2 linked regions of the Homo sapiens genome follow. The protein of the gene in region 1 purifies or fractionates together with the protein of each later gene. This does not show direct contact. Each region holds a gene or a part of one and is shown on either strand. Other genes may lie near its edges.

Region 1 (7,285 bases):
CCATACCCTGTGCTCCACTTATGGAGGACGTCTCCCCAGTTCTTGCCACTCCCACAATCAGAGAAGGTGAGGTTCATAATTATTCAGCCTCATCTCCAAGGAACCTTTAACTGGCAACAGAGATTGTTGGGCCATCATGAGATGCTACTTTCTAGCTCTATGAACATAAAATCACGTAAGAAAAAGCAAACAACACAAATACATGAAAGCCATTTACTCCTGGTGAATTCCTCAGGGTCCCAGGTTCAACACTTTCCGTGATGTCAGAGTACTCAGTCAGGGATGATGGGGACAGGGTGTCAGAACAGTCTTGATGGTCTTGCCAGCAACAGCTTTTTCTTATTTTCCATAATTTGGTCTTAGTCGTTCTCCAGTTGTCTTCATGTAAATAAAGTGGCCCATGGCAATCATGATTCTGTAATTGTTATAGTGCCTTTGTAAGTTGACAGTTTCCAAATCCCCTTACTCATACGACCCCTGTGAAGGGGGGTGTGAAGGGGTTGGTGGGCTTGTGCATATGAGGGAATGTGAACGATTTCATTATGACCGAATTATGCTTTACTCAATAAGCACTCAAACACTACCATCTCACTTGTAGTAGAAGTGCTAGGGATGCAACCAAGAGACTGGTTGAATAACGGGAAGGTTAAATGCATGAGTATTTTAATAGAAAAAAATATTAAAAACAAAACCAAAACTCGTATGGAAAGAGGCTTCTGACTAGGCCCTCCTTTCTAGCAGTGTTTGGCACCTGATAACAATTTGACGCTGGGGGAGGGAGCAGCTTGACAAGGTCCACATGAAGCAGCCTTGAGATTTTTCGCCCACTTCCATTTCTCCTCAGCATCAAAGGAAAGTGCATGGTAAGAAGTGAATCAGACAGCGAGGGATCTATGCAGTTATCCTGTGAATGTGTGGCAAAGCCATCAGGACGCAAACCTCCTGTCTTGAGTCCAGAGCTGTGTGCTTTAAGATTTGACCCCAGTAAAGACAGAATCCTTCAGGCTCGTCCCTTCCCAAACCTAAGGGGCTGTCCTTGGCCACTTTCAACTTGAAGCTGTTGAGCAGTCTTTAGGATATGTAACAGCCTATTTTTTGGACGATATAGGAACCACGACCTCTTAAGTCTCTTAGTTCTCCTACTTTATACCCATGAGGTAGAGGCAGGTGCACTCCAGTGAAGGAGAAGCCTCAATTCAGGTTGTACTTTGGATGAAACATCCCCTCAAGGCGTAGAGGAAGGCTGAGAGGTTCTGCCCAGGCTCGTGTTTAGTTGCAGGAAGAGGTAATGTCAGATCTGAGCAGGTCAGGGAGACTCCCTCGAAAAGGTCTTCCCAGGCTGACAAGAGGGCTTTTCCTCTTCCTCACCTCCCTTAGGTGAGGGCTGAAAGCAGATCTCCTCACATGGGGACCTAGCTAGGAGGTCTTTTCTGAGTGGGTCCTCTGATGCCTAATTAAGTGATATCCTCTGCTGAAGCTTTTTCCACAGGTAGGGCACGTGAATGGTTTCTCCCCAGTGTGTGTTCTCTGATGCCTGACGAGGTGGTCCCTGCGACTGAAGCTCTTCCCACATTCGTTGCATCGGCAGGGCCTCACTGAGGCGTGTCCTCTCAAGTGCTTGGCGAACGCTGCGCTGTGGGTGAAGCAGCGCCCGCACTCGCTGCAGAGGTAGAGTTCCTCAGCAGCGTGCGTCTTCCGGTGCGCCAGGTACCGCCTGTGTTCACTGAAGTCCTCACCACACTCTCCACACAAGTAGGGTTTGCCTCCCAGGTGGATTCTTTGGTGTGTTGTTAACACAGATTTCTGGCTGAAGCTTTTGCCACAAATAGTACAAAAGAAGGGTTTTTCTCCAGTATGTGTCCTCTGATGTCTGACAAGGTCTGAAGTCCAGCGGAAGTGCTTTCCGCAATCATCACATCTATAGGGTTTCTCCACTGATGGAGTTCTCTCAGCCTGTGTCACAGGGGAGGTCTCTTCCAAATTCTTCCGGTTTAGGGGATATTTGTAAGGCGCGTTCATCTTGTGAACCTTTTGGTGCCTGGCAAGATGTGAGCTTCGTGTGTAACTTTTTCCACATTCCATACATTTATAGGGTTTCTCTCCTGTGTGAGTCCTCAGGTGTCTAACAAGGTGGGAGTTACAAGTGAAGCTCTTTCCACACACAGAACAGTCATGATGCCTCCCTAACAGGGGGTGGACGGGTGTAGTTTCCCGAAGGTTCACAAAACTATTCACTTGAGAAATATTAGTACCAAATCTTCTTTCATTAAGTCTACCTGGATTGTCCTCAAAGACTATTTCCCAATCTGGAGTCTGGTGAATTTCTGGTTCTCCCAAAACAGGCCTGTGTATATCCTCCAAACTCAGATCTTCCTGCTCCAGACACTCTTCCTCATCTTTACTCCTATCTCCTGTAGAAAGGGTGAGAGGAAAAAGGGGGTCACTGTAGCGGCAACAATGCCTTCTACACAATGGGGAGATTTTTACAAAGGGTTTTGAGATGGCAAGACTAAATAGAATGCCTGTCCTGTGCCAAGCACTTTCTCATATTGTTATGCTATCAACAAACCTTGGTATGCACAAATATAATCTTCATTTTACAAATGCAGAGATTGAGAATCGAGGGTTTAAGGGAATTGTACAGTAAATGGTATAGCTGCAATTCCAAAAGTTAACATTTTTCTTTCACCCTTTTGTATTACATTGCTATCAGACAAATGATGGGAGGAGAAAAGAGGAGGGCAATGACAGAAGAAATGGCTGTCAGAGGGAGAAAGCAGTACTGGCTGACATGTTAGAAGAACTGATGAGAGCGGGGCCCTACAGAGAGAGAGAAGCACTGCCTAGAGGAACTGCTGGCTCAGGGTGGGTAACACCGTTTTTGTCATTCCTCACCTGTGTAGGTAAAACTCAGGATTTCTGGCTCTTGAGTCTCCTGAGGCTCTTGGATATCTGGGACCCAAGGCTCTTCCTCTCTAACCTGGGAGATCTCATCAGGTCTGGGGATTGGAAATGCTGCTCAAGAGAGGGAAAATAGGATATCACGATTGGCTCAACAATTCCCTGTGTTAAGAGCGGTCCTTTTCTATTTGGTAGGTTGTGGGGCAAATACATAGCTAGCTCAGGTGATGAAATCTTTCATCTCTTTAGTTTGTGTACTTTTAACCAAGGACTGCGTATCTCTTGCCTTTCTTGTGGTTTTCACCTGCAACTTAATAATTATACCATTGTACACCTTATCCTCTTTTCCCATATTCAAGAAAGATTATCTCCAACTCTTACTGTTTTAAAACTCATGTGCTTACTTCAAATATTTCTGCACTAAAGCTGTCATATTACAAGTTTGTTTTCCTATTAGAGGTTTCCATTTCCATCCATTTATCTTTTACTTGAAAGGACACCATATTTTTCACCTAATCCCTCAATTTTATTGGTGGGGAAGGCATAAGAGAAGTTCACTGCATACAATCTAAGGTCTAAGATCCCCCAAAATTTCCAGCAGGAAAAAGATCTCTGGGCTTAGAACACTCTAGAATACTTGAAATTCCTTACACAGAGAGACAACAATTCCACAGTCTTCTTCCAAGACATATTCTCCATAGAACTCTTTCTGTGTTGGGTCCAGATCACTCCACTGGTCCTGGGAAAAGCATACGGCCACATCCTTGAACGTTACCAGTCCCTGAAACCACATAAGGATTTCATCAAAACGTGATGCTACGGGTAGCCTCGTATTTTGTCCCTGTTGAAGGTCATACAATAGGTGGACTCCTCTAGGAGATGAAAGGAGCTTGAGTGGCGGGCTGCTTAAACTCATTCTCGGGGGAGCCATGTGTCCCCTGTGGCACTGGCCCTGCCCCCTCCAACTCCACCACTTTTCCTGAGGACCAGCTTATGTTCTTCTTCTTTAAGGTATTGTTTAAAATTTAGGAAAGGTCTTAAAAATCATCATTCAGCTCCCTACTTGACACTTTAACGCTATATACATTTCTGCAAAATTCATCTTTTCTAGTACACTTTCCCTAAAGACTCTAATCACTTTCAATAGTTTCTATACTCTATAGCCAAAACAAGACTTTTTTCCTCAGTTAGATTACAATCTAAAACCATACATGAATTCTATTTCTTTTTCTCCAGCCACATGGCTTAGTTTCAGAGCTTTGATCATGGTGAATACTTCCTAAATGTCTCAGCAGTACAGTCTGTCATACTTACAAATGACTATCAAATTTATTCCTTTAAAAAAAAAAAAAACTAAAAAACCCTCATTTGACAACTTCGCAGTTGTACTGGAGTGTTACAAAATAATCCCATTTTGTTAGTTCTTCTAGTCAATGGCAAATAAACTGGTGTTGGTGCCTGTGGATCCAATATAAGGTATGATAATTTATCTCATTATCTCCTCCCCTTCCAGGTACCTGCAGAACTGTGAGCTTAAAACTGGCAAGAGTGTAAATGTGCATCCTGCTTCACCTGTTTAGTATGGCTTATGCCCAGTGGTTCTTCAAACAAATTCTCTGTGGTACAGAGGTAACTAGGGCACACCTGTGACAGAGCAGTAAGAAGAGCAACCATCTCTGAGTCTCCAGAGCTCCTCTCTGCAGGAAGGTCTGGGTCCTCGGGCACTGGGACCTCTATGAAGAAAAGAAGGCAAAGATCAGTAATATGCAGCATGCCCCAATAATGGGCAAAAATCTGGGCATCCCCCACCATCTTTGGTAGGAAGGTGGCCCTATCCTTTCTATTATGGGAACCAAGAAACTGGCCTAAGGGTAGCTCCCATATCCCAATCCCATCACCTATGAGACTATCAGAATGCCAAGAGAACAAGCAACAATCTGCTGTCTAAGCTTGGCCCTGTTTATGGGGGACTCTAGCTGGCGGTACTGTCTCCTCTTGACATCCTGGATTCTGTGATGTCTTTCCATACAGTCTATCTACCCAGCTTCCTTGGTATAGGAGAAATGTCCGAGAAATGTCCCCCTCCTTGCCTGCCTTCTGCCACAATCCCCCCTTTCTGCTGATGCTTCCCACCGCTCTCCTGCAGGGTCTGGAGCTCCTCTTCCTGGTGTGGACGCTGCTCTGCCGGTGCCCCCAGATCTGGGCTCTGTGTGGTTTCCTCAGGAGACTGCTCGGGGGTCGAGCTTTGCACAGGATCCTGCAGCTCATTAGGTGACTCAGGCTCCACTCCTAAATGCACCGTCTCCTCTGACAGGACTTCCTGGCCGTGAACATGGACAGTCACCTGGGAATAATTCCAACTTCCAGTCACCATGGAGTCAGGAGGAAGTTCTTGGTTGTCACGGGAGCTTATTTTAGGAGAAGATGCCTAGAGAAAACACTCCCAGAGGGACCCAGACAAGGAGGGGAAACTCCAGTTTCAATGGAGCAGGCAAGGAGGAGCTGAAGGTTATCCTCCCCAGGACAAGGCAGGGGATGCGCAGGCCTGCACTGCTCTCTCACCACCCCCAGCCTGGGCCCCTGTCACCCAAGGTTCCTTCCCATCTCCACCTGTCCCACCTGCAGCTCTCCTTGCTGCCTGCTTCCCTAGCTGACCAGCCAGGAAGGGGGATCTGTGACTGGGGATCTATGAGAACCTTCGAGGAAGTCACAAAATTCTCCTCTCCAGGAACCCACGGCTCAACATTCAAAGAAGGGAAAACCAAAGCCATGACCCTTTGGTGGCTGAGACCCCTCAGATGGTCCCTATACAGGTGTTCCAATATCCAGAAAGTCACATTCATACACACACATCCCCCTAATCCATGGGGCTCATGGTATATGAGCAACCCAAGGGCAGAGCCCACTAATAATTTATGGGGATCCTGCAAGCTCTCCCCGCAAATCCAGCCTTCCAGCAAATAGTCCCCCTCCACATCACACAGATCAGGACTCCCCCTCCTCACCCACCGCCTTGGTCTCCTGGGTTGTTTCTGCAAACCCTCCACCAGCGTCACTGCCTCCTCGCCACTTTCTGGCCGTTGGCCCCGCACCCAGCTCTGTAGTTCTCCAGGTAGGACGGTAAGAAATTGTTCCAGCACAAGCAGCTCTAGGATCTGCTCCTTTGTCCGCCTCTCTGGTCTCAGCCACTGGTGACAAAGTTCTCGGAGTCTGATGAGAGCTTCTCTAGGGCTTGCTGCCTCCTGGTAGCGGAAGCGTCGGAAGTTCTGGTGGGAGGTTTCCAGCACCGGGTCATCCCTCTGTAAGACAGACTCTGGCCGACAGGTGAAATCATCTTCCAGTTTCACCATCAGAATTCCCTCTTCTTCCCAAAGATCCTGGTCCTCTGGTTCCACGGCTGTAGCCATTTCTTGGCTTTGGGGTGGTCTCACACCATCTAGAGCTCACACTGTCATTAGCCCCCCGCCTCAGCCTGGACACAGCGAGGATTTTCTTCCAAGGGCCCTGGATAGAGAAGTAAAGACAAACAAGAGTATAAGCATGAAACTATACACAAGGACAACAGCCTGAGTTCAATCATAATCCTCTACACAAACTTCTTCAAATGGTTAAATCCTCTTTTCCCCAACCACCATAGCCATAAATCAACAGATCCAGTTGGGAGAGGATAATTTACAACTAAAGGTATGGTCCTCTACTCCCTTTCCTAGGCAAGGTTCATACTCTGCAAGAAAATACTGCATTTCCACTTCACAAATACTGCCAATTCCCCCGCTTAAGTCTCCAAACCGGTTCCCTTCTCTTCCTTCCTACAGACTGCTTTAGTTTGAGCCTTCATCATCTCCTGCCTGGACTACTGCTCTAACTTCCTAAGATCCCTGCAGTACTCAACTATAAGCAAAGTACAACAGAATTACCTGTGGAGATTTTGCAAAACATAGTATCACACATCATTTTTCAGACACTCTGATTCAGTCAATTCAGGTAACTGTATGTTTAGAGATGCTACTTGCAGTTCGAATGTGTATCCATGGTTGAGAAACACCAACCATGAGGGAGATGTGTAAGGTTATGAGCGAAAGTTCTGGAGTCAAGCTGCCTGGGTTTGAATCCTGGCTCTGTCGCTTACTAGGTATTTCCAGAGTGGGACCATAGGCAAGTTCTCATTCTCCTAATGCCAGTTTCTCTGTCTATAGAAGGGAGATAATAATGGTTTTTATCTAATAGGCTTACTGTAAGGATTAAATGTATTACTAAAGCCTATGAGCATTAAATGTATTACTATCTTTGCTTAGAAGAGTGATGGCACCAGCTATTATCTTTCTAAATTATAGTTCCAACTATATTACTCAGTATTTTAAAACAAAACCTTTTTCATGTTAGT
Region 2 (5,302 bases), on another chromosome or scaffold:
CTCGCCTCCCAGGCTCAAACGATCCTCCTCAGCCTCAGCTTCCTCAATAGCTGTGATTACTGGTGTGCGTCACCATGCCCAGTTAATTCTTGTATTTTTGTTAGAGATGGGGTTTTGCCATGTTGCCCAGGCTAGTCTTGAACTCCTGGGTTCAAGGAATCCTCCCACCTTGGCCTCCCAAAGTACTGGGATTACAGACGCAAGCCACTGCACCCAGCCTCCCTGTAAACCTGAAGTGAGTTATTTATTCCTCTGTCCTCCCATAGCACTATTCATTTTATTCTGCCTGTATTATGACTAATTGTGTACTATTTGGTCTCCCCTATAGCCTGGGAGCCTGCTGGGGATTGGATCCTGGTCTAACCAGTCTTTTTGTATTTTTTGAAGCACGTAATCTAGGTCTTTAAACATAATAGGTCCTTAATACATAGCTAGTGAGTGAGTATTTTTTTTTCCTTAAGTGTTTGGAAACTTGTTATAAAAAAAAAACAAAAACAAAAACAAAAAAAACAAAAAAAACACCACATTCCCAGTAGATCCAAAGTAAGACAGTAAAGTAAGAACGATTCTCAAACACCTGACTTGTTTACACTTGGAGAGATTTGAAGTTATCCAGTGTTGCTCCTCTATATCCATCACCCAGAAAAGACAAAAGACAATTTTAACTCTTTATTTGAAACAAACAATTTCAGAGACAGAAGGTTAGTCGTGACAACAGCTTCTCACTACAACACAAGGGTGGGCATGGCTCACTGAAGGGACAGGCCAGGCGCCTCAGAACAATATATACAATTTAAACAGTGGCTAACTGGTGACAGTTATAAAAACACAAAAAGGAGCCTGGGAAACAGCAAAGTCAACAGGGAAAGAAGTGGGTACCCCCTTTGCCAGAAGCTAATTGTTTTCTGGGACCTCCAATGCAAGATGGGGAAGAGAGAAGATGTAGGCAGTGGCGGCAGGCCCTGCGCCCACAGCTCCTCGCCTGTCCTTTGACCACAGATCCCATCCTGCATGACTCAAGGTCCCATAGGCTTGGCCTAGCTCTTATGATAGGGGAACAATAGAGGGGAACCCAGCCTCAACCCAAGTCAGAAGGTAGTTTTTGCCTTGGGAGGTCTGTCCATTGAACTAAAGGGAGGCAGTTACAGAGGGGGCTAAGCATGTTGACACCATGGCTCATGGCAACCTAAGATGGCAGAGAGACAAACACAGAAACCAAGGGGACAGGAGTCTGCACAACAGGAGTCTGCTCCCCGTACTTAGTCATTCTCTGCCTCTGAGGAAAAAAAGGCATTTGGAAGATTTTAAAAACGGCAGCACCAAGGATTGGTGCTTGCCGAGGGGGTGAGGGATATGCGGTGGTGAGATGGTGCCAACAACCAATTATTTCATAGGAGGGGAAGAGTGTCTAAGCTCTGTGTTTTATGTAAATGGTCCCCTCATCGCTTTCATTGTTTATTTCTTACCTTTCAGATAAGACCTTTTGGCATGGTGCTGGGGAAGAGTAGAGAAGGGAGTGGGCACAGGGCAGAGAAGGCAGCTGGGTTTTTCCCTAGGTCATGCCTAGGAACAAGAGGCTCTACCTATGCGGGATGGGTCAGGAAACCCAAAGCCAACAGGATCACCAGAGCTATTAACACTCCACCCAGAGTCTGGACCCAGAAGGAGGGGTTTACTCTGAAGCATAAAGAAAACGGGCAAGCTGGCTTTTGCCCATCACTGGGAGACCAGCCCCTGAGTACAGAAGACCAGGGCCCCATGGTTGTCAAGTGGTACGGAAGAAGATAAAAGCCAGGGTTCCTAGAGAAGGCAGGGAATGGGTGAGCGGAAAGGAGCAGTCAGGGCCCTTCAGAATGAGTAGCATTGGTTCCTGGGCCTGTCACCCTGAGGGACATGGCCACAGGACAGACATTGATGTGAAAGATGGATATGGATGGCACACGAGCTCAGTCCAGGTCTTCCTCCCCAGGACGACCCAGTTCCTCATAAATCTCGCGCACAGCCAGGATGCGATTGAGCATGCTCTCCAACATGCTGCGGTCCATGGGGATCACAGAATACCAGAGAGGTGACTCGGCGATGCAGGACCGTTCAGGTTGCAGGTAGAACACATCGTTGCGAGTCCGGAGGCTTTCAGGACTGCAACATCGGGGGTGGGAGTGGGAGTGGGGGTGGCAGGACAGAAGATCAGTACCAAGGCAAAGTAGATCCCTCGGGTCCCCATGCTAACGCTTTTCCTGCCAACCCACCAACTCACCATTTTGAGAGATAGAATTCATAGAACTTGACAGGGCAGCGGAGGGGATTCATGCGGTTCTCACGCTGCTCTAAGATAGGGGCTTCATCTTCTCTCTTCCGTTTTCCAGGACCCGTGTCTATAGGGGAGGGAAATGATTCAGACTCATTAAGAACACAGGCTCCATGAGCCACATCCAAGAGCACAGTTCAGGGCACAGGGAGAAGGCGTCACGACACAAATTACAGTCTCATCAAGATGGAGAGGTGGAAGAAGAGGTCAGTCTCCCTCTCCCACGCCAACCCAACATCCTGTCGGGCTGTTGTTATGCAACCCTCCCCAGTTCCCACTGCCAAAGACTCTCTTTAAAATCTCCCCCAAGTTGCTATCTTGAAGAGGTGATCTCAGAAGTTATTCAAAAGACCTGATAAAACAGACCCTACTGCAAGGGTGGGCTTGCCTTCTGGGATAGAGAAACAGCAATGACCCCAACCCCTTGTGCATTAGTCCAGGTAGAAGCATGGGTCCAGAGAAAGGACCTTGGAAACTTCACTCAGACAGGACAGAAGTCCAGGGACAGAAAAAATGGAAACCAAGGTGCAGTTGTTGTTAGACCCGATAGCAAAGAATCACAGAAAGCCTGTCATTCTACCCTCCCCGACAGCCAAACACACCCAATGGTTTCCTACCTGTCCACCACCCAGAAAAAGCAGGCAAGCAAGTAAACTGTCTTAAATGAGGAAAGAGGGGAAACAGGCCAGAGGGTGACCTCTTATTTATGCAACAGCTACTGCCTATCAGGTAGGAGGACTGGCTGTTTCTACCCTTTCTGCACACAGGAACAGGAGAGGGAAGCTAGGCGCCAAGGAGAGGGCCGACCTGGCAGGTATGGTGGGTTATGGCAGGGCATGGAAGGGGAAGGCAGAGAAGGGGCAAAAGCACAGGGGAGGGGGCAGCCTCGTACCTCGCCCTTTCCTCTGGCGGACTGGGGCATAGTAGCGGATGCTCACCACCTTGGTGGTGCCCCGAGGGGTGGTACACTTGCGGGACTGCCGCACCACATTGGTGAAGGAGAGTTGCATGTGTTCCTCAGCTGTCTGCAGCCCAAAAAACTTAGTGTTGAAGAACATGAGGGTGTTGAGGAGGACAAAGGGCGAGTAGACCCCCAGTTGCTTACACTCCCAGAGGTGCTCCTCCTCCACTCGAGAGAACACCGTATCTACAATGGTCAAGGGGGAGAGGCCAGTCAGGAGGGAGTGGCTACCCAAACCCAACCACTTCCCATCCCATGTGCCCTGCTCATTTCCCACACAATTCTCATTTGGTGAGTAACCTTTGTATATAAAACACTGTCACTTCGCTACACTTGCTACACTACACAGTGGGACTGGGCTTTAAAAAATATATACTTTCCACACCTGCATTTGGAACGCCTCTCACCACCCTCAAGTTGTAGACAAGTAAATGTAAACCTTGAGGAGTCCCACGATTTCTTGCTTTCTTTCTTTACTTACCACCCAAACCCAGGCCATCTTTTTCTGGTCCTAGAGATAGCTCTTCAGACCTAAGTCTTGATCCCCATCTCACGTTCAAGAACAGGCGCTCCTGTGCTCCTTTAACTCTAAACCCTGAGGCATCCAGCTACACGCTCCTGCCCTCGGGCCCTTTGTGAAGAGTGGCAGACCAAACAGCACAGGACTCTCGGGATGGTGGATTGGAAGAATGGAGAAAGCGGGTAGGGGTTGCTACGTCCCTGTTCCTTACTGTTGGGGAGGAGTGTGGGCTGCCAGGTACTCAGAGACTTGTTGAGTTCTTGAACAAAAGTCAGGTAGTAAAGGTCCGTGAAAATGTTCACCATCCGGTTATTTTCCAGCAAGTACTGGGGAAAGAAAAACAGACACACCTAAGGCTAGACTGTAGGTCCTAGAAGAAAGATAATGATGCTGAAGCCCCCAGGTATGGTGTCCTTGATCATTAGGAGACGATGGGAAACAGTTGCTTGATTAGGTGGCCTCGAGTGCTTTCCCCCAGGTATACCCACAGCTCTGCGCTACTCAGGCTTTGCTCGAAGAGGAGGAGGCTTGGAGGAGATGTTCTTTAGAAGCCCACACCTCCTTCTCAGGTAATACATGGTTGACTTCTCCCAGGGGGAACTAAACATTACCCCAGCACTCAAGGATCCCAGCTCCACCCATCCCTCCCCTCCTAGAATGGGCTTAAAGATTACAAAGGGGACCTGGATAGCAATGAAGACTGCTCCTTGGCCAACGGTCCTGGAATGCAGTTTTGATTTTAGAAGAGTATTGATATCTCATGTTCTATTTGGAGTAGGAGATTAAAGGCAAGCTGCCTGCTTCAGGTAGGGGACAAGATGAGGAACAGGGAGTGCAACAGAATAACTGCTTTTTTTTTTCATTAAAAAAATATTTTTTGGGTAGATGGGTATCACTTTGTTGCCCAGGCTGGTCTCAAACTCCTGGCTTGAAGCGATCCTCCTGCCTCAGCCTCCCAAAGTGTTGGGATTACAGGCGTGAGCCACCGTGCCTAACCCAGAATCATTTCTGTTTAGACCCTGCCTGCTGTGTTAAGAGTGACAGGAAGTGAGGTGGTGCACAAGAGGTACCTGCTGGATGCCAAGACACAAATAGTAGATACTGTCAGGTTCATATCGTTCACCATTGGGCCGAGTGATTTCTCTCACAAACTGGGCCAGACCGTAGTTGAGCTCAGCAGCTGAGCAGGCGAGAATATCCTCTTTGATACGCATGGGTTTGGCTGCAGTGATATGTTGTGCAGGGACAGGATTAAGAAAAACTCTACATGGAGAATTTCACTTAGCTCCATCACCATTAACCCCTCCATCCCTTAGTCATGCCTAGCTCCTGAACAATTACAGAAAGAGCCCCTAACCTGGAACCTAGACAGCATTTCCCTTTAATCTACAACTCCTCCCCATCTTCACAGGGCATCCTTAAGGGATCACACCCTTATCACTTCTAGACATCTTCAGCTGAATCACAGGCCCAGCCCCTTCTCCCCTTTCCCCTCCTCCTCCCTGTCCCTGCC

What was found.
Region 2: the proteins of ZNF202 (region 1) and ZMYM3 purify together in Homo sapiens (affinity purification with mass spectrometry; 2 studies listed by BioGRID and IntAct, with this or other methods). This does not show direct contact.

Annotation. Positions count from the first base shown.
Region 1 is NC_000011.10:123,724,581-123,731,865, forward strand, and holds part of ZNF202 (zinc finger protein 202), read right to left. Parts: intron 7,092-7,285; exon of another isoform or gene 6,819-7,091; intron 6,406-6,818; 5' UTR 6,309-6,405; coding exon 5,907-6,308; intron 5,246-5,906; coding exon 5,035-5,245; intron 4,635-5,034; coding exon 4,546-4,634; intron 3,683-4,545; coding exon 3,553-3,682; intron 3,016-3,552; coding exon 2,896-3,015; intron 2,412-2,895; coding exon 1,417-2,411; 3' UTR 1-1,416. UniProt on the Homo sapiens protein: Transcriptional repressor that binds to elements found predominantly in genes that participate in lipid metabolism.
Region 2 is NC_000023.11:71,238,970-71,244,271, forward strand, and holds the end of ZMYM3 (zinc finger MYM-type protein 3), read right to left. Parts: intron 5,012-5,302; coding exon 4,860-5,011; intron 4,116-4,859; coding exon 4,001-4,115; intron 3,456-4,000; coding exon 3,201-3,455; intron 2,376-3,200; coding exon 2,258-2,375; intron 2,140-2,257; coding exon 1,947-2,139; 3' UTR 655-1,946; downstream 1-654. UniProt on the Homo sapiens protein: Plays a role in the regulation of cell morphology and cytoskeletal organization.